Linked DNA regions of Homo sapiens. The gene in region 5 interacts genetically with the main gene of each other region. Each region holds a gene or a part of one and is shown on either strand. Other genes may lie near its edges.

Evidence for each region.
Region 1: changes in CIT (region 5) and TCF25 together harm fitness more than expected from each alone (negative genetic interaction), as found in Homo sapiens cells (one large-scale study listed by BioGRID).
Region 2: changes in CIT (region 5) and PFAS together harm fitness more than expected from each alone (negative genetic interaction), as found in Homo sapiens cells (one large-scale study listed by BioGRID).
Region 3: changes in CIT (region 5) and SEC22B together harm fitness more than expected from each alone (negative genetic interaction), as found in Homo sapiens cells (one large-scale study listed by BioGRID).
Region 4: changes in CIT (region 5) and ERBB4 together harm fitness more than expected from each alone (negative genetic interaction), as found in Homo sapiens cells (one large-scale study listed by BioGRID).
Region 6: changes in CIT (region 5) and PTCD1 together harm fitness more than expected from each alone (negative genetic interaction), as found in Homo sapiens cells (one large-scale study listed by BioGRID).
Region 7: changes in CIT (region 5) and XRN2 together harm fitness more than expected from each alone (negative genetic interaction), as found in Homo sapiens cells (one large-scale study listed by BioGRID).

Annotation. Positions count from the first base shown.
Region 1 is NC_000016.10:89,890,592-89,894,091, forward strand, and holds part of TCF25 (ribosome quality control complex subunit TCF25), read left to right. Parts: intron 1-1,601; coding exon 1,602-1,684; intron 1,685-3,136; coding exon 3,137-3,267; intron 3,268-3,500. UniProt on the Homo sapiens protein: Component of the ribosome quality control complex (RQC), a ribosome-associated complex that mediates ubiquitination and extraction of incompletely synthesized nascent chains for proteasomal degradation.
Region 2 is NC_000017.11:8,252,289-8,255,788, forward strand, and holds part of PFAS (phosphoribosylformylglycinamidine synthase), read left to right. Parts: intron 1-1,570; 5' UTR 1,571-1,649; coding exon 1,650-1,791; intron 1,792-1,877; coding exon 1,878-2,013; intron 2,014-2,738; coding exon 2,739-2,844; intron 2,845-3,213; coding exon 3,214-3,403; intron 3,404-3,500. UniProt on the Homo sapiens protein: Phosphoribosylformylglycinamidine synthase involved in the purines biosynthetic pathway. Catalyzes the ATP-dependent conversion of formylglycinamide ribonucleotide (FGAR) and glutamine to yield formylglycinamidine ribonucleotide (FGAM) and glutamate.
Region 3 is NC_000001.11:120,152,521-120,156,020, forward strand, and holds part of SEC22B (vesicle-trafficking protein SEC22b), read right to left. Parts: 3' UTR 1-3,500. UniProt on the Homo sapiens protein: SNARE involved in targeting and fusion of ER-derived transport vesicles with the Golgi complex as well as Golgi-derived retrograde transport vesicles with the ER.
Region 4 is NC_000002.12:212,528,803-212,532,302, reverse strand, and holds part of ERBB4 (receptor tyrosine-protein kinase erbB-4 isoform JM-a/CYT-1 precursor), read left to right. Parts: intron 1-3,500. UniProt on the Homo sapiens protein: Tyrosine-protein kinase that plays an essential role as cell surface receptor for neuregulins and EGF family members and regulates development of the heart, the central nervous system and the mammary gland, gene transcription, cell proliferation, differentiation, migration and apoptosis.
Region 5 is NC_000012.12:119,688,821-119,692,320, forward strand, and holds part of CIT (citron Rho-interacting kinase), read right to left. Parts: intron 1,635-3,500; coding exon 1,331-1,634; intron 1-1,330. UniProt on the Homo sapiens protein: Plays a role in cytokinesis. Required for KIF14 localization to the central spindle and midbody. Putative RHO/RAC effector that binds to the GTP-bound forms of RHO and RAC1. It probably binds p21 with a tighter specificity in vivo.
Region 6 is NC_000007.14:99,435,999-99,440,262, reverse strand, and holds the start of PTCD1 (pentatricopeptide repeat-containing protein 1, mitochondrial), read left to right. Parts: upstream 1-1,464; 5' UTR 1,465-1,571; intron 1,572-4,264. Other genes in the region: CPSF4 (cleavage and polyadenylation specificity factor subunit 4), read right to left, coding at 1,078-1,180. UniProt on the Homo sapiens protein: Mitochondrial protein implicated in negative regulation of leucine tRNA levels, as well as negative regulation of mitochondria-encoded proteins and COX activity. Also affects the 3'-processing of mitochondrial tRNAs.
Region 7 is NC_000020.11:21,306,331-21,309,830, forward strand, and holds part of XRN2 (5'-3' exoribonuclease 2), read left to right. Parts: intron 1-3,500. UniProt on the Homo sapiens protein: Possesses 5'->3' exoribonuclease activity. May promote the termination of transcription by RNA polymerase II.

The DNA.
Region 1 (3,500 bases), on a different chromosome or scaffold from region 5:
TTTCTTCGGGAATATTAATTAAAAATAGACTTTAAAATGTCACTTTGTCATCTGCATTTCTCTGAGCTGAGGGTTCCACCTCGTCCCACCCTTTGTTTGCATCTGCTTGGTCTGTCTTGGTCATTTCTTTATATTTTTGCATGGTTTTATTTCTGCAAATTATAATTATTAATAGTAATTAGTATTATAACTGTTAATACTGATTACTCGTAGTAATTAGTTGACAATAATTGCCTTTATTATTTTTATAGTATTATTAAACTTTTTTGTTTATTTATTTCTTTAAAAATTTAAGTCCTACCAAAAGACTTACATGGAGAAGCCACAGTTTCCTTTTTATTCATTCCTTGTCCTGCTCCTCCAAGACAAAGACCTGGCCTGTTTCCATTTCTCCTTCTGGTGGTTCTCTCAGAAGCTCAGAATAACAGGCACTGCTTTCTCTTGGGTCCTTGACTTCCTACTACGACAGCCCGGTCAGCTCATCGCCCCCGCACTTCAGCACACTCCTCCCATTGCTCAGGGCGCCTGCCAGCCTTCAGAGCTCCTCCAGGCTCCTGTCCCCTGCCCCCTCCTGGCATCTGCCCAGGCTGCCTCGTTGGGTCTGTTCTGGAGGCTTCCTTACTTGTTTTGTGGGATAGCTCACCGCAGGTCAGGCCATCCCTGGGATTCTGTACATCTGGCCCAGGAGAGTGCTGAAGGGCTGACTCTCCTAGGCCTGGGCGTGTGCTACAGGCAGGAGAAGCAGGCTGGGGCCACCTTCATGTCAGGAGGGCCCACCACACTGGCCTCCACTCTGCGGTGGCTGAACTGTGGGGAGCCCGGGGCCAGGGCAGGGATGGCCCCGTGGGAAGGGAGCTGCACCGTGCTGATGGTGACCGTGGGCATGGCTGCTGCTGTCTGTGCTGCCGCGGCTGCCACGCCCCACCTGTCTGGTGCCTGTGTGCTCAGGCAGAGTGCCCTGACCTCTGTTATTTGGGGGTCTCTGCCACAGGGGTCAGGCCCACTCTAAGCACTGGTCAGCTGGTATCTGAGCTGGGCAGGTGGGGCAGCATGGAAAAGGCATGGAGCTGCTGTTACCTCAGAGATGGTTGGTTTCTTAAGTTGAGTGATGGGCATGTGGATATTAGTACGTTGTTCTCTTTCTTTTCGTTTTCTTTTTTTATTTTCCTCTTGAGACAGGGCCTTGCTCTGTCGTCCAGGCTGGAGTGCTGGGATCACAGGTGCAGGCCATCACGCCAGGCTAATTTTTAAAACCCTTTGTAGAAATGGGGTTTTGCTGTCTTGCCCAGGCCAGTCTCGAACTCCTGGGTTCAAGAAATTCTCCCATCTTGGCCTCTCAAAGTGCTGGGATTACAGGTGTGAGCCCCCGTGCCCAGCCAGAATTGTTTCTTTCTCTCTATGGGGCCCTCCCTGCTGCACCCGTCCCACAGCAGTTGCTGACGCTTGTTTGCATCCTGTCCTTAATGCGTCCCCACCCTGCCCCACATGCCTTCTCTGCCCCTCAGTTTTGCTTCCACAGCCCGTGCAGGGATCAGGCAGCCAAGCCTTGGTCCCCACACGCCACAGGAAGTAAAGCTGTACCTGTGTCCCGTTCTCCCCAGGCCACGGCAGAGACAACGTGTGTACCCCAAGTGCACATGGCTGACCACCCCTAAAAGCACCTGGCCCCGCTACAGCAAACCAGGTGAGGGTCTGCAGATGCTGCTGGGGATGGAGGGTTGGGGGGCGTTGTCTGTGCACTGGCCCCGGTACAGCAAACCAGGTGAGGGTCTGCAGAGGCTGCTGGGGGTGGAGGGCGGCGGGGGGGTGTGTTCTGTGCACTGGCCTGCGCTGGGCACCAGGGGCGTCAGTGCCTCTTGAGCCGAGACTCTTTGCTCCAGGAGCGCTCCAGGAGTGTGCAGTGTGTGACTGTTTGTTGCCACACTGAGGGCCTGAGTGCTGGAGGCCTGGCCCAGTACCTCAACACGGAGCCTCCCAGGCACAGTCTTTGTGTGACTGTCTTTTAACGCAGGTTCTTCCTACCATTCTGCCATCGACCTTTCCCTTATGGAAGCAATCGAGTTCATTTTAAACTGCAATATTTTGTATATTATTGCAAACTAATAAGTGATTTTAAGATGAATTGCAACAGTGAAGACAGGCATGGAGTGTTGGGTGCTTGGTTGTGTGGTGTGGGGAAGTGTCAGGAGGCCTTCCACACTGGCCTCCACTCTGCAGTGGCTGAACTGTGGGGGCCCTCAGGGGCCAGGGCAAGGACAGCTTGTGGGAAGGGAGCTGTGTGGTGCCCTTGGTGATCGGCATGGCTGCTGCTGTCAGCGCTGCCATGGCTCCCACGGCCGCTTCTCCTGCGCCTGTGTCTGTGGGGGTGCCGGAGATTGCCTGCATACATTCTGTAAGGACACATCTAGGAGCGAGGCCTGTGCTGTCAGAAGGTGAACCCCGCTGCTCACGGCCCCTTCCCTTCCTGGCAGGAACCCCTGCTCACTGCAGACAGGGGTTCCATGGCCATGTATTCCTGCAGGACTGGGGCCTTGGGCAGGGCCATCAAGAAGGTATCACTACAGGGGACCTAGTCCATGGAGGTCCTGGGAGGCTGAGCTTTCCAGGTTTATCAGAAGAAACTGGGTCCCATACACCCAGTCAGACAAGAGGAGCCAAGTGAGAGGGTGGTCACACGTTACAAAGCTCTGTGGCTTCAGAGGCCTGGCGCTGTGGCCACCTGTGCCACCGCACTCCAACCCTGTCCTTCCACAGCCACCCCGGACATTCTCCTCAATCAGACGTGGTCTGGGGACAGTGCTCGGCGTGGTCAGATCTGGCGATCTGTGGACTGTGTGTGTCCTTGTCCCTGACATTCCCTCCAGGCCAGTGGGGCTAGAGCTGTATCCGAGTTCTGGAGGCAAACACGTCTTGATAGGAAACTAAAGCAGACGGGATGCCGTCTCCTGGTGTAGACCAGACGGCGGGTGTTTTGGGAAGGTGTCCGGAGCTGGTGACACCCATGAGTACACACTCAGGTCAAGTTTGTCGATATCGCAGAGGCCTCATCCAGAACACCACGAAGGTGAGGGCTGTGCTCGGAGCTGCCCACGTCCCTGCTCCCGGCACACCCTCCCTGAGCACTCTCCCCTCCCAGGTCTGTCCATGCGGCTGCTGGAATCAAAAAAAGGCCTCTCCTTCTTTGCGTTTGAGCACAGTGAGGAGTACCAGCAGGCTCAGCACAAGTTCCTGGTGGCCGTGGAGTCTATGGAGCCGAACAACATCGTGGTGCGTGGTCCCTGCAGCCCCTGACAGGAGCAGGGGCCATGTAGCCACCACTGCCCTGGGCCGCCTGCTTCCCTGGTGGCTGGGGGAGGCATGCTGCCTCCTGCCCTTCCCAACAGGAAGGGTGCCAGTCTCTGCAGGGCGGTCTGGCCCTGTGACCAGAAGGAGATGTGTTCGGAGGCTCTAGGCCAAGCGAGCTCCATCCATACTCAGAGGAGAGGCTGGAGCGCTGCTCT
Region 2 (3,500 bases), on a different chromosome or scaffold from region 5:
CTCAAAAAAAAAGAAAAAGAAAATAAATAAATAAATAAATAATTTATGACATGATATCATCAAGCAATAAATTCTTAAACAAAAGCTTTGTGATCAGAGATCCTTTTTTGTTTGTTTGTTTTTGTTTGTTTTGAGACAGAGTTTCACTCTTGTTGCCCAGGCTGGAGTGCAATGGCTCGATCTCAGCTCACTGCAACTTCCGCCTCCCGGGTTCGAGTGATTCTCCTGCCTCAGCCTCTCAATTAGCTGTGATTACAGGCACGCATCACCACGCCCGGCTAATTTTGTATTTTTTTTAGTAGAGATGAGGTTTCACCATGTTGGTCAGGCTGGTCTGGAACTCCTGATCTCAAGTTCTCACTGTGTTGCCCAGGCTGGAGTGCAGCGGCTTGATCACTGCTCACTGCAGCCTCCGCCTCCCCAGGCTCAAGTGATCTTCCCACCTCAGCCTCCCTAGTTGCTGGGACTACAGGCACATGCCAGCACACCCAGCAAATTTTTGTATCTTTTTTGAGAGAGATGGGGTTTTTGCCATGTTGCCCAGGTTGGTCTCGAACGCCTGTGCTCAATCCTCCCACCTCAGCCTCCAAAGGGCTAAGATTACAGGTGTTAGCCACTATGCCCCGCCCAATCTGGCCTCTTCTTATAAGGGCAGATTATAAGAGGTTTGGTGAGATTAGTAGCTCATTCTTGAGAGTTCCACTTTCATGACCTAATTACGTCCCAGAGGCCCCACCTCCAAATACCATAACATTGAGGATTAGGGTTTCAATATATGAATTGGGAGGGGGAGATACACAAACATTCAATCCATGGCTGATACCATTTCTCTCAGGAAATTTTTCCTGACACCTGAAGTGCAGGATTGGTGTCCACAGTCCCCTGACCTTCACCACACGGGACTGGAAATGTCTGGGTACTTGGCCTTTCTCCCCCAATAAAATATAAACCCTGTGAGAGCAGACAGAGTTTCTGTCTTGATTCACAGCGGTGTTTCTAAGACCTTGACTGGGGCCCAGCAAAGTGCATGTACTCCAGGAACACGTGTCAGGTGTGTGCCTGTACACCTCCCTACCACATTAATAAAGACCACATTTTGCAAGATTCCTTAAAATCTCCAAGGTTACATTTTTCAGGTTACCTTGTTTCTCTAAATGTCCATATTACTTTCCCCTACCCTATCCATAACGCCGCAATTTTCCTTGAAATCTGAAATCAGTTCAACAGATAGGCCATAGTTAATGTTATTTTTATTTTATTTATTTATTGAGACGGAGTTTTGCTCTTGTTGCCCAGGCTGGAGTGCAATGGCGCGATCTCGGCTCACTGCAACCTCTGCCTCCCGGGTTCAAGCAGTTCTCCTGCCTCAGCCTCCCTAGTAACTGTGATTACAGGCGCCCGCCACCACACCCAGCTAATTTTATATTTTTAGTAGAGACAGGGTTTCACTATGTTGGCCGGGCTGATCTCCAACTCCTGACCTCAGGCAATCCACCTGCCTCAGTCTCCCAAAGTGCTGGGGTTACAGATGTGAGCCACCACGCCCGGCTTAGTTAATGTTATTTTTTAGGAACCTAATTCATCTCTCCAGCAAAGGACACATCTCTCCAGCAAAGGACACCTCTCTCCAGCAAAGGACACCTGCAGAGATGTCCCCAGTCCTTCACTTCTATGTTCGTCCCTCTGGCCATGAGGGGGCAGCCCCTGGACACACTCGGAGGAAACTGCAAGGGAAACTGCCAGAGCTGCAGGGCGTCGAGACTGAACTGTGCTACAACGTGAACTGGACAGGTTGGGCCCAGGTATTAGATTCTTGGGGGACATGCCTCGGTGCTGGGGGCAGTGTCTCAAGGTGTCCTTGCCCTGTCTCCCTGCAGCTGAGGCCCTCCCCAGTGCTGAGGAGACAAAGAAGCTGATGTGGCTGTTTGGTTGCCCCTTACTGCTGGATGATGTTGCTCGGGAGTCCTGGCTCCTTCCTGGCTCCAATGACCTGCTGCTGGAGGTCGGGCCCAGGTAAGTATCTCATCCTGCCCACCCCTTTCTTCTGCTTTCCTTTGCTTCCTCTTGTGATCCTTGGGAGATTTGCTTTTCCTTTGCTCTTTGCTACTTCCTGCCTAGGAAACCACACATGTGCTTTCCCCATTTGGGTAGATCCCTCCAAAGACCTAGCCTGCTCCAAAACATGTTCTCAAAGCAAAATAAATTAGATTCCAAGTTAAAATCAAACAGTTTTGGCCAGGCGCGGTGGCTCACGCCTGTAATCCCAGCACTTTGGGAGGCCGAGGTGGGGCAGATCACGAGATCAGGAGATTGAGACCATCCTGGCTAACACGGTGAAGCCTCGTCTCTACTAAAAATACAAAAAATTAGCCGGGTGTGGTGGCGGGCGCCTGTAGTCCCAGCTACTAGGCAGGCTGAGGCAGGAGAATGGTGTGAACCCGGGAGGCAGAGGTTGCAGTGAACCGAGATCACGCCACTGCACTCTAGCCTGGGCAACAGAGCAAGACTCTGCCTCACAGAAAGAAAAAAAAATCAAATAGTTTTGATGCTAGAGGACAGTTTTGGTTTGGTTTGAGTGTACTTTAAAAGCAGGTTTCTTGTTGCCCAGCCTGAGGCTGAAAGCCAATGGTGAGGGGATAGCGGTGGGAGGTTGTCCAGACAGCAGTAGGCAGGATCCACCCTCCCAGCTGAGGCCTGCCGGGGGTTCTCCAGTCCTAACCATCAGGCCCATTGTTCAGGCTGAACTTCTCCACCCCAACATCCACCAACATCGTGTCAGTGTGCCGCGCCACTGGGCTGGGGCCTGTGGATCGTGTGGAGACCACCCGGCGCTACCGGCTCTCGGTGAGGTGATGGGGAATCAGGAGGAGGAGATGAGCCAGAGATACAAGATTAGATCCTAAGCTCTAGAGAGAAGCAGGGACAGGTGCTCCTGGCTTTAGGCCTGCTCTGTATGGTCGTACAAGTTGTTCACTGCCTGAAAGTACCTGGTTGAGGGGTAAATGGGGCAGAAATCCAGCCTATGCTTCCTTTAATTTGTGCATCCTGGCATGGATTCATACCTGGAAAGGGCGTCTTTTTGTAATCTGAGAAAAAGTGCCATATGGTGTGGCAGTGGGCTAGCCTTGCATGACTAAGAGGGTAGGAAGGTGGACCATTTCTCTCCATTCTTAAACTCTTCACCCCTTGCCCTCTGTGTGTCTGCACCCCTAGTTTGCCCACCCCCCGTCAGCTGAGGTGGAAGCCATTGCTCTGGCTACCCTGCACGACCGGATGACAGAGCAGCACTTCCCCCATCCCATCCAGAGTTTCTCCCCTGAGAGCATGCCGGAACCCCTCAATGGCCCTATCAATATACTGGGTGAGGGCCGGCTTGCGCTGGAGAAGGCCAACCAGGAGCTTGGTGAGTAGCTGGGGAGGGAGATGTAGGGTCCAGGATAGGCCAGTAGGGGTGCTGAGATCTGGAATGTGGCTGCCTGAGTTCCATAGTCACCTCTTCC
Region 3 (3,500 bases), on a different chromosome or scaffold from region 5:
GGCTAAAATTTTAGTGAATCAGATGTGGAAAACAGTTGGATTAACATTGAGATCAAATGAGAAAGGAGCAAATAAGGAAAGAGGTATTACAAACCAAGAGTAAAAAAGGGAAAACAAAATAACAAAAGCAAAAACTATTTAAAAAGAATAAAGGAAGACGTGATAATGAAGTAAATTTAAAAAGTACGGAATAATAAAAAGAAATTGCAAAAAATAACTTTTGAAAATAAACATACTAATAACTTGACAATAAAGTGAAATGTGTAAGACAAACGTATCTGTGTCATTATTTAGGAGTAGTGAAAAGTACTCTTAAATAATAATTTGGTATCTAGCAGGCCTGGATTTGAATCTACTTTAACTTGCTAGCTATGTGACCTTGGGCAAGCAAAGAAACTCCTCATAACCATTGTAATAATACCAGCAAAATGCCTTACACTTACGGCTCAAAAAATGAAGGAAATGAGAGAAAAAAGTATAGATTACTATATGGAAGTCAAATTTCTAGTGACTTTTCTAATCCAAACATGAATTGTTACAGTACTTGAAATAAACTTTATGAGAACTGAGTGACTACATTGCTTCAGATAGTTTTATACTGCTAGGTCAACGCTGCCTGACAGTAATAAGAATAGGATGTGAGATTCAATATGCTCATTCTATCTCAAACTCTGTCACACATACAATGACTGCTATTTACCTTCCTCCTGAGCCATCTGGGAAAAAACCAACCAACCAACCAACCAAACAAAAGAAAAACCCACCAGGTAGGAGTCAGTTAGTTCTGCTAACTAACTAACCAAAAACCTTAATTGTATGGCCATCAGCACCCTAGCCCTTTGTCATGAAAGCTACCAATAAGGTGGAAATTTAAAATATGAGATATTTTATTATACATGTTTTATTAAACCCTATATGTGCAGAAATGATTGTCCATTTTCCTTCTTAACTTGCTTTTGTAAGACTTATTAAGTAGAAAATATAAATCTCAAGCTCCTTAAATGTGATTTTGAGGAACTGAGACCAAAACAATTTTTTGCTGTGGAACCAGATCCTTGAATGCACTACAGGAAAATATTATTTGATATGAAATTTTTTTGGTACACACAATTTTTCAAAAATATATCTCTCTCCACAAAGTTAATTCAAATTGTAGAATTCTTCCAAGTCACAGATGGAGTTTTCAAGGCTCTGGGTACTTACCTTTGAGTTCCACATCCTTTATCTCTGGAGCTCTTAACTGAGGGAACATGGACCATTAGGTCATGAACAGACTTTGTAGTCTTTGAACAGCCTGAAACAGTATGTGATACTTGATGTGCATGTACACAGGAACATTTTTCTAGAGTAATGGCACATACCTTTCATCAGATTTTCAAAGGTTTCTCAAAATGCTCAAGAACCATTGTTAGATATTTAAATAACCAGAGTGTACAGTGTCCAAATATTTCCAAATTTTGACACTTGTAAGATGTCTTAATTAAAACAAGCCATGAAGTTCAGCGTCACAATAACCAGAAAAGCACTTGTGAGAGTAGTTCTATGTCTTTACTTCCTAGTGGTTTACACACTCTTTAACCCATATGGCAATCTGGCTTCTGTCTCCAGTGCTCTGGAATTACTTCTGCCTGTATGATTAAGTTCCTCATTGTTAAATTCGAAAATACATTCTTTGGTATTTATTTGACCTCTTGGTGGTAATATAGCGTAAGAGCACAGACTCTGGAGCCAAACTGCCTAGGTTCAAATCTTAGCTCTATTACTTTCTAACTCTGTGACTTTGGGCAAATGACTTAACTCTCTCATGCCTCAAAGCAGAATCCTTTGTAAGGTTTATTTATATAGTGGTGTAAAGAGTACTTACTTCAAAAGCTTTGGTCAGTGTGAGAAATAAGCTCCTAACAAAGAAAGTGTTATGTAATAGTTATTATCTGGTACCTCTGATCACAACATTTTTGAAAATCACTTGAAATCTGCCTAAGTTTCATTCTGCCTTTGATGGCTCCTTATTTTCATCTCCCTACTTCAGGCTTCCTCCCTAATATATCTTTTATGCCAATATTATGATCACTTGAAACTATAAATCTGATGCCATCCTTGGCCACTACCATTAAGATGGTCTAAACTCCTCAGCATGATAGACAAGTCCCTTTATGATAGTGTACCCATCTAGTTCTCATTCCTCAAGTCTCCTCTGTTGTCTATGCTTACCCTATGGGCTAAGCTGAATCAAGCTGTTACATTTCCAAAATATGCCTCACTGTCTTTATTCATGCCTTTGCACATGCCATTGACTCTTCCTAGAATGCCCCATTCTCCTTCTCTAGAAAGTCTTCTCTTAACATACTTCTTCCCAAAATAAATTAGGTGTCCTTTCTTAATATGCCTCCAATAACCCCATACAGTATTTATCCCATTCTATTTTAGATGCCAGTTTGGTTGATGATACATTTCATCTAGTCAGATCTTCCCACTGCCTCTTATAAAGAAAACCAGGAGCCATATTATGATATTCTTGTTCTCTAATTTTTCTGCTGCCCTGATCTTAAACCACTTTCTTCTCCCTTTGTTGACAATTACCCCACCCCTTATTTCTTAATTAGCCCAACAAGATTAGATAGAAATGTATCTACAAAGGATATATGTATATAAATTAACTAGATAACAAAACTTCACACTGAAGTGAACATTCTACAAGTATTTATTTCATTGCTGACCATTAGGTTGCAGCATGCAACTCTCAACAATGAGCTGCCCCTCTCCACTCCTATAGAAGCTCCAAATACTATGGTACCACTATGTAGGTTTTCAGCCTTTCAAAGGCTTTTATTATTAACATCATCATTACTTCAGCAGGAGCCTTTTAGGGACTTAAAAGCACTGATTATCTATAAAAAGTAACTTCATATTTCATGCACAAAATTCCCAATTGGCAGATTTAGGTCCATAAAAGAAAGGAAAAAAATTATTCTAGTTATATAAATTATCAGGAATAAAATAGCATTTCTCCTTGCCTTGTTATAAGGAAATAATATATTTTTCCTTACCAGGAATCAGGATAGTATCTTTGATGATCCCTCAGGGTTATAAAATTGCTTACTGGTTAAAGTTTTTTGCCAAAGATATTAAGAAATAAAAAGTTCGCTCATTTTCCTGTGCAATTTAAAGAAATATTTGCAGTATGTACAGGAATTTTAAGTTATATTGCAGACCCTGGCAATAATATTTAAAAGGCCTATTTTCCCCATTAAAAAATTCTACCTCAGAAGGTAAAAGGAAATCTCCATCATCCCTGAGCAGAAAAGGAAAAAATCATGGGTACTTTAATTAGTTAATAGAAACCACTGTAAATGAGTTATCTATCTCCAGAACATTCTCAGAGAATTTACACGAACTAAAACAGGAATGAAGTGCTCTCAGAGACTTTTTCTCAGGTAAATGTATTTAGTAGTTTGAGTAGTTGATCTGCAAAAACTTTAACTTTAATTAACTACATAGAT
Region 4 (3,500 bases), on a different chromosome or scaffold from region 5:
TGTTGCCTCTACTCTCCTGCACTGGTGTCATAGAAGTCCGGCACTAGAAACCACTGATGTAATCCAGTCATCTTATGTTTTAGGTAAGGAAACTGACAGCGCAAGGAAATTAGATAATATAAACTAGTGGCAGCTCCTGACACCAATATCATTTTCTGTAGCACACATAGAAGTATTTGAAAAACCACTGACACATAAAAAAATAAGGAAACAAATAAAAGGTTATGTTGCATTAAAGAGAATTGAGAAACTGAAATGAAGACAAATGGCTTGGATCCACACTCCTAATTACCATATTGTGTAGTTCTTTCTAAAAGAAAGACAGTGGGATCCTCATGATCATCTTTAATTTATATTTGGAGAGTAATCATTGATTGCATTGATAAGTTATGGCACATGAGGAGTAAAGAAATAAAGCAACTTTTTAAAGACATCGTTCTATAAGAGGATTTCTTTACCTGGTTAGGCCTATGGAGACATAGAATCTTGAATTCCCTAAAAGTCACACAGGAGCCCACAGTACTATCTGTATATAATAGCACTTTTAAGAGTTTCTTTTCTTTCTTTTTGTTTTTTTTTAACCTGGGCTTTATGAAGATGTCCAGTCAGCAGAAAATGCTTATTTTTTCATTTTTAAAATAAGTACTATGAATGCTGAAATAAGATGGATTGTAAAGGATAAACAGTGGGTTCCTCATCACCAGTTAGTTGATGGAGACCTTTAACCAGGAAATCCATGAGAATACTTCAGATTCATCTAGGCCTGTCCTTGGACCTAAGATATGACATGAAATGATAATTTCTATGGTCTTTGTTGGGCCATCCTCTTTCATCATGGCCCTAACTAAGACATAGTTCTATTCTTTGAGCAAGAGCATAAGCAAAGCTTTAAGTACTGACTATAAATTTATTTCTATAGCACCTTTGCCTCACTCTAGTTGGCTTCTGTAAGATGCTACCTCTGGGCCTTTTGACTGCAATATTTTTGACCTAAACTTAATGCTCTCTGGTTGTAGCTGAGTTCCCTCATGTGCCTCAGCCGTCTTGGGCATGATAAGTGTTCTCATGGGCCCATGTGAAAGAAGGGAAGTTTGAAACTTGTTTTGGCAAGAAGAGTCATTTCCTGATAGAAATTGGAGATGAAAGTGGACCCCCGTAAAAGATTAACATAAACACCATGAAACTTCCTGTGCAATATCATTAAGCCTCTCCCATGAGAAGTAACACAGGATCATTACTATTAATCACATTATTTCCAATATTGTAGGGGTTACTGAAGCGTACTAAACACCAATAGGAATATGCAAGATCCAGTTTCTGAGTCCTGAGAGTTAAATTAAAAGGACTCAAGACCGATTGAAGATTTATAATATATTTCATTTCGAACATAGTTTAAATGTGTTGAAAGAGAAGAAAGTGAATGGTACAATAAACACTCTTTTATTTTCCACAAAGATTAGACTTGTAAACAATCGGTTTCACCTGCTAAATCTTTACTGCTCTGCTGACCTTTACTTACTCCTGGTCCCATGTGCTTCTAGTATAGGTGGATATCCAAGTGTTAATCTTTTGAATACAAGTGGGGATCATAAACCTGCTTTCAAAAAATGCGTGTGCTTGTTTTCTCTCCTCTGCTGGGGTTATCTCATGGCTGGTTAGGACTGAAAATAATTGACAACAGATTCTCCAGGCTCTGTGACTATATCAAGTATAGCTGTGACTTGAGCAATAAGTGGCACAGTCTTCTATTTCAGGATGGGTCCCAATCACTATCAAGGGGATGCCTAATAGAGATCATGGGTGGCAGTGACTATTTTGCTCTAGGCAAACTCTTACTGAAATCTTTGTCATTATTTCCTGTCCTTCTCTGTAGGCTTAAAGAATGTGAGAATATGGGTTTCTATAGGGACCTATGAAAACCAAATAAAAATACAACAGGATAATATTTCTTTTATACACATACTTTCATTTTCAGGAATTCCTTTTGTCTGGTAATTTTGTCTAGAACAGAGCAGTTAAATAAGTTTGTTTTAAAGGAAAGTTGACTGCATAGGTATGTTAAAAGCTACTCCCCAAGATTTTTATAAGCATCATCTGGTCCTTAGAAACCTCAGGCAGGGTTATTGCAAGATCCTCTTTATGGGTATTCTTCTTCTTCCACGTCCTCAAACCTCTAAAATCTCCTTCCTGTCACTGTCAGATTACCATTTCTAATATTATCTTAGTTTTTATTCTGAAACTTTTCATGGATCCCTCTTGTAATGTTCAAAGCCTGCTAAAACTGTCTTCAATTTCTTTTTAAATCCATCATAGAGTCTGTTAACATGTACTCTGTCTAAAAACCAGACTGACCTAGTCAATATCTCATGACTATGCCTTCCTTATTGTCCTTACTTTTGCTGATCCCTTTTCCTGGAATTTGTGGCTTACTTGGTGCTTTTACTTGGCCAAACTTTTGAATCTTTTAAGTTTTACTTTAAATTATACGTCTTTGTTACATCTTCCTTCACTGGCTACTCTAGCCAGTAGTCCTTATCAATATCACTTATCTGGCATTTAATCAAACCAACCAATAGTTTTGACTTTTTAAGTACCAATGTTTTTATACTCTGCAGAGACTAATGTGGTGCCACATACATATAAGCTCTTTAAAAATTTTTTTTACATGAATGAATAGCATACATTTGCAGGAACAATTTTAAGCTCGTTCATGAATGGTTATTATTTGTAATTAAACCATATAGTGCACAAAGTAAGCTGTTTGAATAACATAATTATAGAATTCTTAATAATAGCTATTGGGCATGTTTACCCTGCAAATTTCTTTAGTTGCTTTCTTGAGCTTCCTAGGGTATTTCTTCAAGTGGTGTGTTTCTAAGACGCTATCATTCATCCCTATCCCCATTTTTAGAATCTACCCATAAATATGGTGCAATTTCTGTTGGTTTTATTTCTGGCAAGTTAAATATATGTGGAATGTGGATACCACTTTTAAACATGTAAATATTTTGTAGTTCAGTATTTTAATGTTAATGGCTATTATTTTGCTATTTCTTACTTATCTGCCATTTAAACATTTAATCAATTTAAGCAATAAGCATGTACTGATCCACCAGTGTGTATTTCAGGACCATGTTAGGAACTGAAGAGGAAATATAAGAAGCTCAAGATGCCAGCTTTTTCTTTCTTTAAAGAAGAATAGATGAGGCCAATAAAACACAATACAAAAATATGTTATTAAGTGATTTTGCAGACTCTTGGGAGGAATATTTGCCTCCAGATAAAATGTTAATAAATATTTCATGAAAAAGGGTTCCAGATAGAATCTGGCATTTTCTATTCCTAGATATATGTGATAATACAACTTTGTTATAGCTAAGATTTCTCAGTATCTTAAAATAGACAACTAGACATATGCTTACCATTTTAAAAGGATCCTATAAAGGAAGCACTTGCAGTATAACTGAACTGAGAGGTGATGGGGATTCTCTTAGTTGCTC
Region 5 (3,500 bases):
ACTGTGAACACTTTCTGTGTAGCCTTCCAGAAAAACAATTTATATATACACATGTGTGGGCTGAGCGTGGTGACTCACGCCTGTAATCCCAGCATTTTGGGAGGCCAAGGTGGGAGGATTGCTTGAGCCCAGGAGTTCAAGACCAGCCTGGGCAACATAGCGACATTATGTCTCTAAAAAAAATAAAAAGGGCCGGGGGTGGGGGTGGGAATCAGACAGATGGTGGCTTGAGCCTGTAGTCGCAGCTATTCAGGAGGCTGAGGCTGGAGGATCACTTGAGCCCAGAAGTTCAAGGCCGTGGTGAGCTATGATCACACCACTGCACTCCAGCCTGGGCAACATAGTAAGACCCTGTCTCTAAAACAAAACAAAACAAACAAACAAACAAACAAACAAAAAGTGGGGGAAAAAGTTAGCCAGACATGGTAGCTACAGCCCATATTCCCAGCTACTCAGGAGGCTGAAGTGAGAGGATCACTTGAGCCCAGGAGTTTGAGGCTGCCGTGAGCTATAATCACGCCACTGCACTCCAGCCTGGGGTAACAGAGCAAGACGCTGTCTCTCAAAAGAAAAAAAAAAAAAGAAAAGCATATGTGTGTATGTGTGTGAATCTATATCTATGTTTGAAAAAAGCATGCAACATTTCATATAGGATGCTATCATTTGGGTTTCAAAAGGAGAGCACACATATATATTTGCTGGTACGCACAGAATATCTCTAGAAACTGCTACCACTTGCCTCTGGAGAAGGGAAAACATTTTTTGGTAGCTATTATATTTTGAGTTACATGCATACATATTTTCCTTTTCAATTACACACACGTTATCCATTTGCTTAGGAAGCTCTTTTTTTTTTTTTTTTTTTTTTTTTTTTTAAGACAGAGTCTCGCTCTGTCACCCAGGCTGGAGTGCAGTGGCGCGATCTCGGCTCACTGCAAGCTCCGCCCTCCGGGTTCACGCCATTCTCCCGCCTCAGCCTCCCAAGTAGCTGGGACTACAGGCACCAGCCACCACACCCGGCTAATTTTTTGTATTTTTTTCGTAGAGACGGGGTTTCACCACATTAGCCAGGATGGTCTCGATTTCCTGACCTCGTGATCCACCCGCCTCGGCCTCCCAAAGTGCTGGGATTGCAGGCGTGAGCCACCACGCCCGGCCAGGAAGCTATTTCTTAAGGTACATTTTCTTCCTAAATTCCTGTGTCTCGCAAAGTCTGAATTACAGTCATGGAGTTCCTTTTTTAAACAACAGTGGCCCCGTGGGGGCCTCAGTTCCCCAAGTCACTCCTGGCCTCCGCAACAGACACACAGGCCTCGGAATGCTGCCTCACCTTGTTCACCTGGGACAGCGGGGTCCTCACGGCTCCCGCAGGCAGCCGGCCCCTGCTGCTGTCTTCAAACAGCCTCCCGGGGGACCGCTCTCTCCGCGTGCTGAGCATCCGGCCGGGGGACTTCTCTCGCTCCAGGGGGCGGCCAGGAGACTTGTCCCTGCGCAGCTCGGTCCGCCCCTCGCGGTAGCGGTGGGGTGTGCTTGGCTCTCGCGGGTGGCTGGGGCCTTCGGGCGGCGCTGGGCTGGAGGCCACGCGCTTGGTGATGTGCTCGTTGTACGTGGGTGGGCCTCGCTTGTTGGGGCTGCTGGCGACACAAGAGGAACGTAGGGAGCTGCGAGGCCACAACCCCAGAGGGGCATTTTCCTTCTTACCTGAGCAACCCCCTCCTTGACCCAGCCTCACCACTGATTATCAAGAGATTAGACCTGGAGTTCTTTGGACTTTGCCTGCATTTGATTTTGGTAGCAAAGACAGGGAAGAGAGCAAAGATGGCAACAAAAGACAACCCACCTTCCTCAGTGCAGGCTTTCATTTACTGAGCACCTACTGTGTGCCAGGCCTGTGCTAAGTTCTTCATCTGCCATCTCTCATTATCTCATTAAATCATCACAGCAGCTCCTGAGCTATGAACAAGCATGACCCTCACTGTACAGGCAAGAAAATGGGGACAGACAGGAGTTAGGTGACTTGCCTGAGCTAATGAGTGGTAGAGCTGGGATTCCAATAAAGACCAGTTTGATAGGCCAGGCGCAGTGGCGCACACCTGTAATCCCAGCACTTTGGGAGGCCGAGGCAGGTAGATCACGAGGTCAGGAGATCGAGGCCAGCCTGGCCAACATGGTGAAACCCCGTCTCTACTAAAAATACAAAAATTAGCCGGGCGTGTTGGCGTGTGCCTGTAGTCCCAGCTACTCAGGAGGCTGAGGCAGGAGAATTGCTTGAACTGGGGAGGCGGAGGTTGCAGTGAGCCAAGATCGGACCACTGCACTCCAGCCTAAGTGACAGAGCAAGACTCCGTCTCAAAAAAAAAAAAAAAAAAAAAAGACCAGTTTGATGTCATAAGCCCCATATAATATCCTACTGACCTACTATTTCCCAGAGCCTAGAAGGCACAGAAGGAAGTCATCAACTAGGAGGTCAGCCTACTAAGACCCAGAAGTCAGGGACCCACAAAGGCCCTCAGTGCAAGGAAGCAGTTTGGAGAAACCCTGTACTGATCACTGTTAACTGCCATGTCTGTCCCACTCCTGGGCCTCGTGTTTGGTCACCTCTGCCCCCATGTGGCTTTCCAAGAGTCTCTGACACCTGATGCAAATGCAGATGCTCAGAAGGTGGATGGTTCTCAGTCATGACAATAAGACGACCGAGAGGTGTAGGGATCAGGCCTGATAGAGTCAGGAAACTGAGCAGGGCAGACAAAGTAAAGCGGGCTCAGAAAACGTCCCAGGCCTCAAAGGTTGATAATTAGTAACCAAGCAGTTGAAAACACTGCGGCCTTTTTGTACAACCCAACCCAATCCTCCACCCACTCCTGGCCTGGATATTTCAAATGAAGATTTCAGCAGACCCAGGGGCCAAACTCCCTCTCTGAAGATGTAGTAAGACCTACAAACACAGAGAGAACTGAAATGTGGCCTTCTGAGTCAATTCTTTCCCACCCTTGATCAGCTCTAAAAGTACTAGGGTCCCTATTATCTCAGCATAATTTGTGCTTGGAAAAGGCCCTACTTAAAATGGAGGAAAAAAATTACAGTGAATATTACTTGAAAACATATTTTGTTTGATTGAGGCTTTATCTTGGAATATAAACTTATTTTATGCTAGATATTTTTAGTATTTAAATTACAATGCAATTACATGCTGATTCCAAAAATGAACCAAGCATGAATCACAGAATGATTTGTTTTGTGCTAATTGTCTCAACAAAATTGCTGCTAACATGCTCTGACACCAACGTTGGACACATTGGACTTTTGCAGTGGATCCTAAAGAAGGCTCTTCAAAAATATTTGAAAAAGCCGGGCACAGTGATGCATGCCTGTAGTCCTAGCTATTAGGAAGGCTAAGGAAGGAGAATTGCTTGAGCCCAGGAGTTCAAGACCAGCCCGGGCAATATGGCAAGACCCCGCTTCTAAAAAACTAAAACTAAAAATTAAAACAAGAAAAGTGT
Region 6 (4,264 bases), on a different chromosome or scaffold from region 5:
GGTGGGAGACCCCGCTGGTAGTTGTGGGCGACAGCACACAACACTGGAGAGCTTGCCCGCCTCTGCTATGCACTGAGTGATTGTCAGCAAGTCCCTTCCCCCGCTTGGGTCTCAGTTTCCCCATCTGTGGATTGAACTCAGTGACTTCCACAAGCCCCCAAACTTTAAGGTTATAGCATTAGATTTCAAGTATGTCCAGATAGGAAAGAAGACACAAAGAAAACTACTGGTTTCTTTTAAAGTACAAGATATCCCACCGAGTAGGAGGTGGGAAGCCAGGAGCCACCATATGAAGGGGAGCAGTGAAGGGAGTTCAGGCCAAGGGTCCACACCAGCTGCTGGGTGTGATGAATAACTCAGAGTTGGGGTCCAGAAAAAAGTAGGGACGGGCCAAAAACTAGGGATGAGCTCCCAGGAGAGTGAGTCCTAGAAGGGAGTTTGAGAGTCTAGCTGGGGTCTCCTACAGAAAGGTGGTCCTTCCCTCAGCACATCTCCTCCAACCGCCTAGTTTTGATGAAATCAAGAAGAGACGCTCAACGTAGCGGGTGTGATATCCTAGTACTCTCCTGCAGTTGGGAGAGTGTTGAGGGAGAGTTCCAATCCAGGATAACCCACCCTTATTCAAGAATTAAGCGAACAGACAAGGTCTACCCTCCTACAGATTACCTTTGAACAGCCGCAGAGGGCCAAAGATCCGAGGCAGTGAACTCCTGAGTCCGAGTGAGGGTAAAAGGAGTCCCCAGACGGTGGAAATGGGGGCCTGGGAGTCAGGAGTCCTGAAACCAAGGGGAGCGTCCCGGGATCCAGAAGAGGAGGTCTCAGGATGGAGTGGGAAGAGTCTCGGGACCACAGATGAGGGAGTTCGGTAACTAAAGGGGAGGATCCCAGGACCCGGAGGAGGTGGGAGGGACTCTCAAGACCTAGAGGGAGGAGTCCTGCGACCAAAGGGGAGGGGTCCCAGGATCCAGAGGAAGCCGGGGGAGGTCTCAGGACCGAGGCGAGGGAGTCCCGGGATCACAGAGGAGCGGGTCCCGGGTTCGAGTCGCTCTTGCCCTCCCGCCCGGGCCCCGCGCTCACTGTCCATGCCGGGGAAGGGCAGCGGCTGCGCCCCCAGCTGCTGCTCCACCGCGATCTCCAAGTCAAACTTGATGTGGTCCACGCTGGCGATGATTTCCTGCATGGCGGCGGCGGCGGCCCCACCGGCCCGGCTCCCCCTCGGTCTCCTGCAGCCTTCTCGCCTTTACCCGCCGCCGGCCCCGCCGCACACACTCCTCCTTCGCTTCGCCTCGCCGCCGCCGCCGCCGCCGCCCGAGGGATGCCGGGAGCGCCCGGAGCCCGCGCCGGCCCTTGCGCCTGTCCAGGCACTGCCAATCGAGACTCCGCCGTTCCGCTAGTCCCAGCTAGCCGCCAGCCGAACACCGGCCTCGCCAGAAACCTGAAACCAGCCGCGTGAGTCGGCGACGCGGATTGCGCCTGCGCGCTTGGGGAGAGGGGGACCCGAGGAAGAGACTGGTTCGCCGCGGGGACCGGGCAGGGCTCCCCGTCGGAGTGCACTGCGCCGGACACTTCAAGTGAGTTCCTGTGTGATCCTCGCAGGAGCCCCGGGACCCGGGCCAAGACACGCCAGAGGGGAAGGAAGTGCCCGAGCCGGGATTGGAGCCGGGGGCGTCTGAGGAGGGAAACTGAGGCTGCAGAAGTCCGTGTGGAGAGGGGTCGGCGTTGGCCTGAGGGTCCGGGTGGGCCTCTGAGGAGGGGCGGGTCTCTCCGAGGAAGGACGGCCGCAGCGTGTCTCTAATTCAGGGTTTTTTCTCGCTCTGTGGCCCAGGCTGGAGTACAGGGGTACGATCATAGCTCACTGCAGTCAACTTCTCAGACTCAAGCGATCCTCCCACCTCAGCCTCCCGAGTAGCTGGAACTACAGACGCTGCACCACCACACTTGGCTAATTTTTAAAATTTTATTTTTAATTTTTGTAGAGACGGCGGGGTTGGGGGGGCGGGTGGCGGGTCTTGCTATGTTGCCCAGGCTGGTCTCGAACTCCTGGCCCCAAGCCCAAAGCGATCCTCCTGCCTGGGCCTCCCAAAGTGCTGGAATTGCAGGCATGAGCCACTATACAGCCTAATTCAGGGTTTTTTTTAACCAGGGTGGGGTAATGAGCTTGTGTAGGAACAAAATGCACCCCTATTTTTCTCTATGTGAAGTATAGCATTTCCTTTCCTGATTGCTGGAGCAGCCTTAGCAGTGCCTGAAACTGTGAGGGTGAGTGTAAATGATAGTTCCAGATAACAGTTTGTGCAGGGCCAGGCATGGTGGCTCACACCTGTAACCTCAGCACTTTGGGAGTCTGAGGCGAGAGGATCACGTGAGGTCAGGAGTTCGAGACCAGCCTGGACAGGATGGCAAAACCCCGTCCCTACTGAAAATATAAAAATTGGCCTGGAGTAGTGGCGCGTTCCTGTAATCCCAGCTACTTGGGAGGCTGAGGCATGAGCATGGCTTAAACCCGGGAGGCAGAGGTTGCATTGAGCCGAGATTGTACCACCCCACTCCAGCCTGGTGACAGAGTGAGACGCAAAAAAACCCAGTTTGTGCAGCAACTACAAGGTGGTATCTTAAGCTGTCACTTACATTTATTACTGCTTTGAAATTATGATAGAGTCGGCCGGGCGCGGTGGCTCACGGCTGTAATCCCAGCACTTCGGGAGGCCGAGGCGGGCGGATCACAAGGTCAAAAGATCCAGACCATCCTGGCCAACATGGTGAAACCCTGTCTCTACTAAAAATACAAAAATTAGCTGGGCTTGGTGGCATGCGTCTGTAGTCCCAGCTCCAGGGGAGGCTGAGGCAGGAGAATCGCTTGAATCCGGGAGGCGGAAATTGCAGTGAGCCGAGGTCACGCCTGAGGACAGAGTGAGAGACTGTCTCAAAAAAAAAAAAAGAAAAGAAAAGAAATTATGATAGGGTCTTGTTATTTCATGCATTGAAAATAAGCATCTATACTAGTATAGCAGAAATTTGTTTTTAAAGCATTTTGATGCCATTTCAATATCATTGCTTTTTGTTTTGTAATTCTGTGTATTGTAATTAATGCACGTAAGGCAGGGCATGGAGGCTTACGCCTGCAATCCCAACACTTTGGGAGGCCAAGGCTGGAGGATTGCTTGAGGCCAGGAGTTCTAGACCAGCCTGGCAACATAGGGAGACTCCATCTCTACAAAAAAATACAAAAAATTAGACAGGTATGGTGGTGTGCACCAGTAGTGCTAGTTAATTGAGAGGCTGAGGTAGGAGGATCACTTGAGCCCAGGAGTTGGAGGTTGCAGTGATTGTGCATTTGCACTCCACTGTGCCATCGCACTCCAGCCTGGGCAACATGAAGACCCCATTCCACAAAAAAGAAAATTACATAAACACCATGCTTGTAAGAAGGAGTGGCAGGGCTTGCCAGATGCAGAATGATAAAGGCCCCCTGCACTAGTTTCACAAAAGGTGCTGGTCAGGACAATCATCAATGCGTTACATGGACCTGAGTTCAAAGCCAGCCCAGCCCAAGCTGGCCAGTCTCACCCACTGCACTGCTGCAGGACCCCAGCAAGTCTCTCCCCTTGCTGGGCCTAGTTTTTTGTTTGTTGTTGTTGTTGTTGTTTTGAGATGGAGTCTTGCTCTGTCGCTCAGGCTGGAGTGCAATGGCGCGATCTTGGCTCACTGCAACCTCTGCCTCCCACGTTCAAGTGATTCTCCTGCCTCAGCCTCCCAAGTAGCTGGGATTACAGGGGCACGCTGTCACGCCCAGCTAATTTTTATATTTTCGGCAGAGATAGGGTTCACCACGTCAGGCTGGTCTCGAACTCCTGACCTGAGGGGATCCACCCACCTTGGCCTCCCAAAGTGCTGGGATTACAGGCGTGAGCCACCGCTCCTGACCTACTGGGCCTAGTTTTTAATCTGTTCAATCTGCCATCACTTGTAAGACTTTTCCAATCGCAACCTTCTAATATAACCAGACTCTAAAATACTTTAGGCTGGGCATGGTGGCTCATTGCTGTAATCCCAGTGCTTTGGGAGGTCGAGGCGAGAGGATTGCTTGAGTCCAGGAGTTCAAGACCAGCCTGGGCACATAGCAAGACCCTGTCTCTACCAAAAAATAAAATTAGCCAGGCATAGTGGCTCACACCTGTAGTTCCAGCTACTCGGGAGGCTGAAATGGGAGGATCGCTTGAGCACAGGAGGGTGGGGCTGCAGTGAGCTATGTCTGACCTGAACC
Region 7 (3,500 bases), on a different chromosome or scaffold from region 5:
CACCATGTTGGCCAAGCTGATCTTGAACTCCTGACCTCAGGTGATCCACCAGCCCCTGCCTCCCAAAGTGCTGGGATTACAGGCATGAGCCACCGCACCTGGCCAGGAATTCCAGTTTTAATATTAGGTTCCCTCAGAACTTTGAAAGAAATTGTTCTTTTGTACTCTCTCATCTAGTAGTGTTGATGACAAGTTCGGTGTTAATGTGATGTATTTATTTAACCAGCAGTTATATAGCATTTACCATTGTTTTAAGAACTTTATTATAACTTGTTTGATCCTCACAACCACATGACTTCTACTGTTGTAATTATTTTTATTACATACAAATAATAGAAGCACGTTATTTGGAGACAACCAATATTGTTATTATGTTATAATAATTACTATGTTTATTGGCCGGGTGCGGTGGCTCACGACTGTAATCCCAGCACTTTGGGAGGCTGAGGTGGGTGGATCACGAGGTCAAGAGATCCAGACCATCCTGGCTAACATGGTGAAACCCCATCTCTACTAAAAATACAAAAATTAGCTGCGCATGGTGGCGCGCCTGTAGTCCCAGCTACTTGGGAGGCTGAGGCAGGAGAATCACTTGCACCCGGGAGACAGACATTGCAGTGAGCCGAGATCCCGCCACTGCACTCCAGCCTGGTGACAGAGCGAGACTCCATCTCAGAAAAATAATGATTATTGTTATGTTTATTATTATTTCAGATGAGAAAATGGAAACACAGCAGGGTCGCGTATCATACCCAAGGTCACTCAGCTGATAAATGTCAGAGCTAGTGTGGAAACCAGAAGGACTTAATTTTTATGCTCATATGCTTTCATTCTTTTGTGATCAGTTTTCCTTCCTAGATTTTAAAAAGATCTTTTTCTTGATAGTGTAAACTTTCATTATTAGGTACCCAGGTATAGATGTTATTTTAAATTCAGATTCATTTTGATCAGTACGTGGCTCACTCTTTGAGTCTGGAGTCTTACGTTCTTCGGTTTTAGGGAATGCTGTTTGATGATTTCTTGACCTTTTTTTCTTCCCTTTCCAGACTCAGGATACTGGTCCTCTTAGACTCATGTATTTTTATTTTTATTTTCTCTCTCATTCTCTGGCTTTCCTTGAAACCTCCCCCAACCTTTGGTGTTTTTGCAGCTTTGTTGAGGTATACTTGACATAGAATAAACTGCAGGTAATTAAAGTGTACAATTTTCTTTTAACTTTTTTCGAGTTGAGGTCTTGCTCTGTCACCAGGCTGGAATGTAGTGTGCAATCATGGCTCACTGCAGCCTCAAAGTCCTGGGCTTAAAGTATATAATTTAATACAGTGCATACATCTGTGAAACCAGCACAACCAAGACAGTGAACGTGACCTCTAAAACATTCCTTCTGCCCTTTTGTAGTTCCTTTCTACTATCCCTCCCTGCCACCTGTCTTTTGCCAACCACTGACTGGTTTGCTTTCTGACCGTATGATAAGTTTTCATTTTCTATAATTTTTTATAAATGAGATTATATAGTATATACTCATTTTTTGCCTCAGTTACTTTCATTCAGTATACTTATTTTGAAATTCTTCCGTTGTTGTATGTGTCAGTAGTTTATTTCTTTTTTGTTTTTATTTTTTTTTGAGATGGAGTCTCGCTCTGTCGCCCAGGCTGGAGTGCAGTGGTGCGATCTCGGCTCACTGCAACCTCCACCTTCTGGGTTCAAGCAATTCTCCTGCCTCAGCCTCCCAAGCAGCTGGGATTACAGGCACATGCCACCACACCCGGCTAATTTTTGTATTTTTAGTAGAGATGGAGTTTCACCATGTTGGCCAGGCTGGTCTTGAACTCCTGACCTCAAGTATCTGCCTGCCTCGTCTTTTAATTTTTGGATAGTATTCTGTGTGTAGATACACCACATTTTATTTATTTATTCAGATGATTGATGAACATTGGGATTGTTTCCAGTTTTTGGCTTTCTGAAAAAGAAACCTATGAACATCTCTGTACAAGTCATTGTAGGGACGTATGCTTGCATTTGTTTGGGGGAAAAACATTAGGAGTGAAATGGTTGGATTGTATATTAGGTGTGTGATTACTTAAAAAGAAAAACCTGCCAGACTTTTTTTTTCAAACTGGTTGTGCCATTTTACATTGGCATCAGCAGCATATCAGGGTTCCAGTTGCTCAACTTCCTCACCAACACTTGATATAGTTAGCCCTTTTAGTTTTAGGTAGTCCAGTGTACTGTTACCTTATTGTGGTTTTAACTTGCATTTCCTTCAGATGCTTATTTGCTTTCTGTATATCATCACGGGCAGGGTGAGGCATCTGTTCAGATCTTTTGCTCATTTTTATCTTCGGTTGTCTTACTTAAATGTAGAGTTTGTTACATATTCTAGATAGAAATCCTTAGTTTGATATATCTTTTGCAAATATTTTCTCTTGATCTGTGGCTTGTCTTTTTACTTCTTAACAGTGTCTTGGGAGCAAACATTTAAAAATTTTAATGAAGTCTGATTAATTTTTTCCCTTTATATTTCTGCTTTTTGTATTTAAGGAATCCTTTGTCAAAGCCAAGGTCTCCTGTGTTTTCTTAGAGAAGTTTTATAGTTTTACTTCATTCTGTGGTTTCCATTTTTTGGTCTAGTCATATGGTGAATTATCGGTCTTTAAATGCTAAAGCCACCTTGCATTCCTTGGATAAACCTCACTTGATCATGTTGTATTATTTTTATATACGTTGAATTCAAGTTTGCTAAAGTTTGCTAAAGTTTTCTTGAGAATTCTTGAGAATTGTGTCTCTGTTCACAAAAGATATTTGTAGCATTCTTGTAATGTGTAGTTGAGATGTCAGAATAATGTTGACCTCAAATTGAGTTCCTTCAGTTTTTTGGAAGAGTTTGTGTAGAGTTAGTATTGTTTCTTCCTAAAATGTTTGATAGAATTTACCAGTGAGGCCATCTGGACTTGGAGTTTTGTGGGAAGGCTTTAAGCTGCAAATTAAGTTTCTTTAGTTGATCTAGAACTATTGAGGTTACCTATTTATTTATTTATTTATTTTTTGGATGAGCTTTTTTAGTTTGTATCTTTCACAGATTTTGCCCATTTCATCTAAGTCAAGCTTGTCCAACCTGTGGCCTGCAAGCTGCATGCAACCCAGGATGCTTTGAATGCGGCCCAGCACAAATTCGTAAACTTTCTTAAAACATCATGAGATTTATGCACAGACCTTTTCTTTTTTTTTCAGCTCATCAGCTGTCGTTAGTATTAGTGGCCCAAGACAATTCTTCTTCCAAAGTGGCCCAGGGAAGCCAAAAGATTGGACACCCCTGATCTAAGTAGTTGAATTGGCTGACATAAAGTTGTTCATAGTATTTTCTTACTATCCTTTTTTTTTTGTTATTAAAATGTTTTCACTCCTGTTTTTACTTCTCTTTTGTTTTCTTTTTTCTTCCTGTTAACTTGTTATTATCCTTTTAATATTGTTAGAATCTGTAGTGATGTTACCTCTTTCAT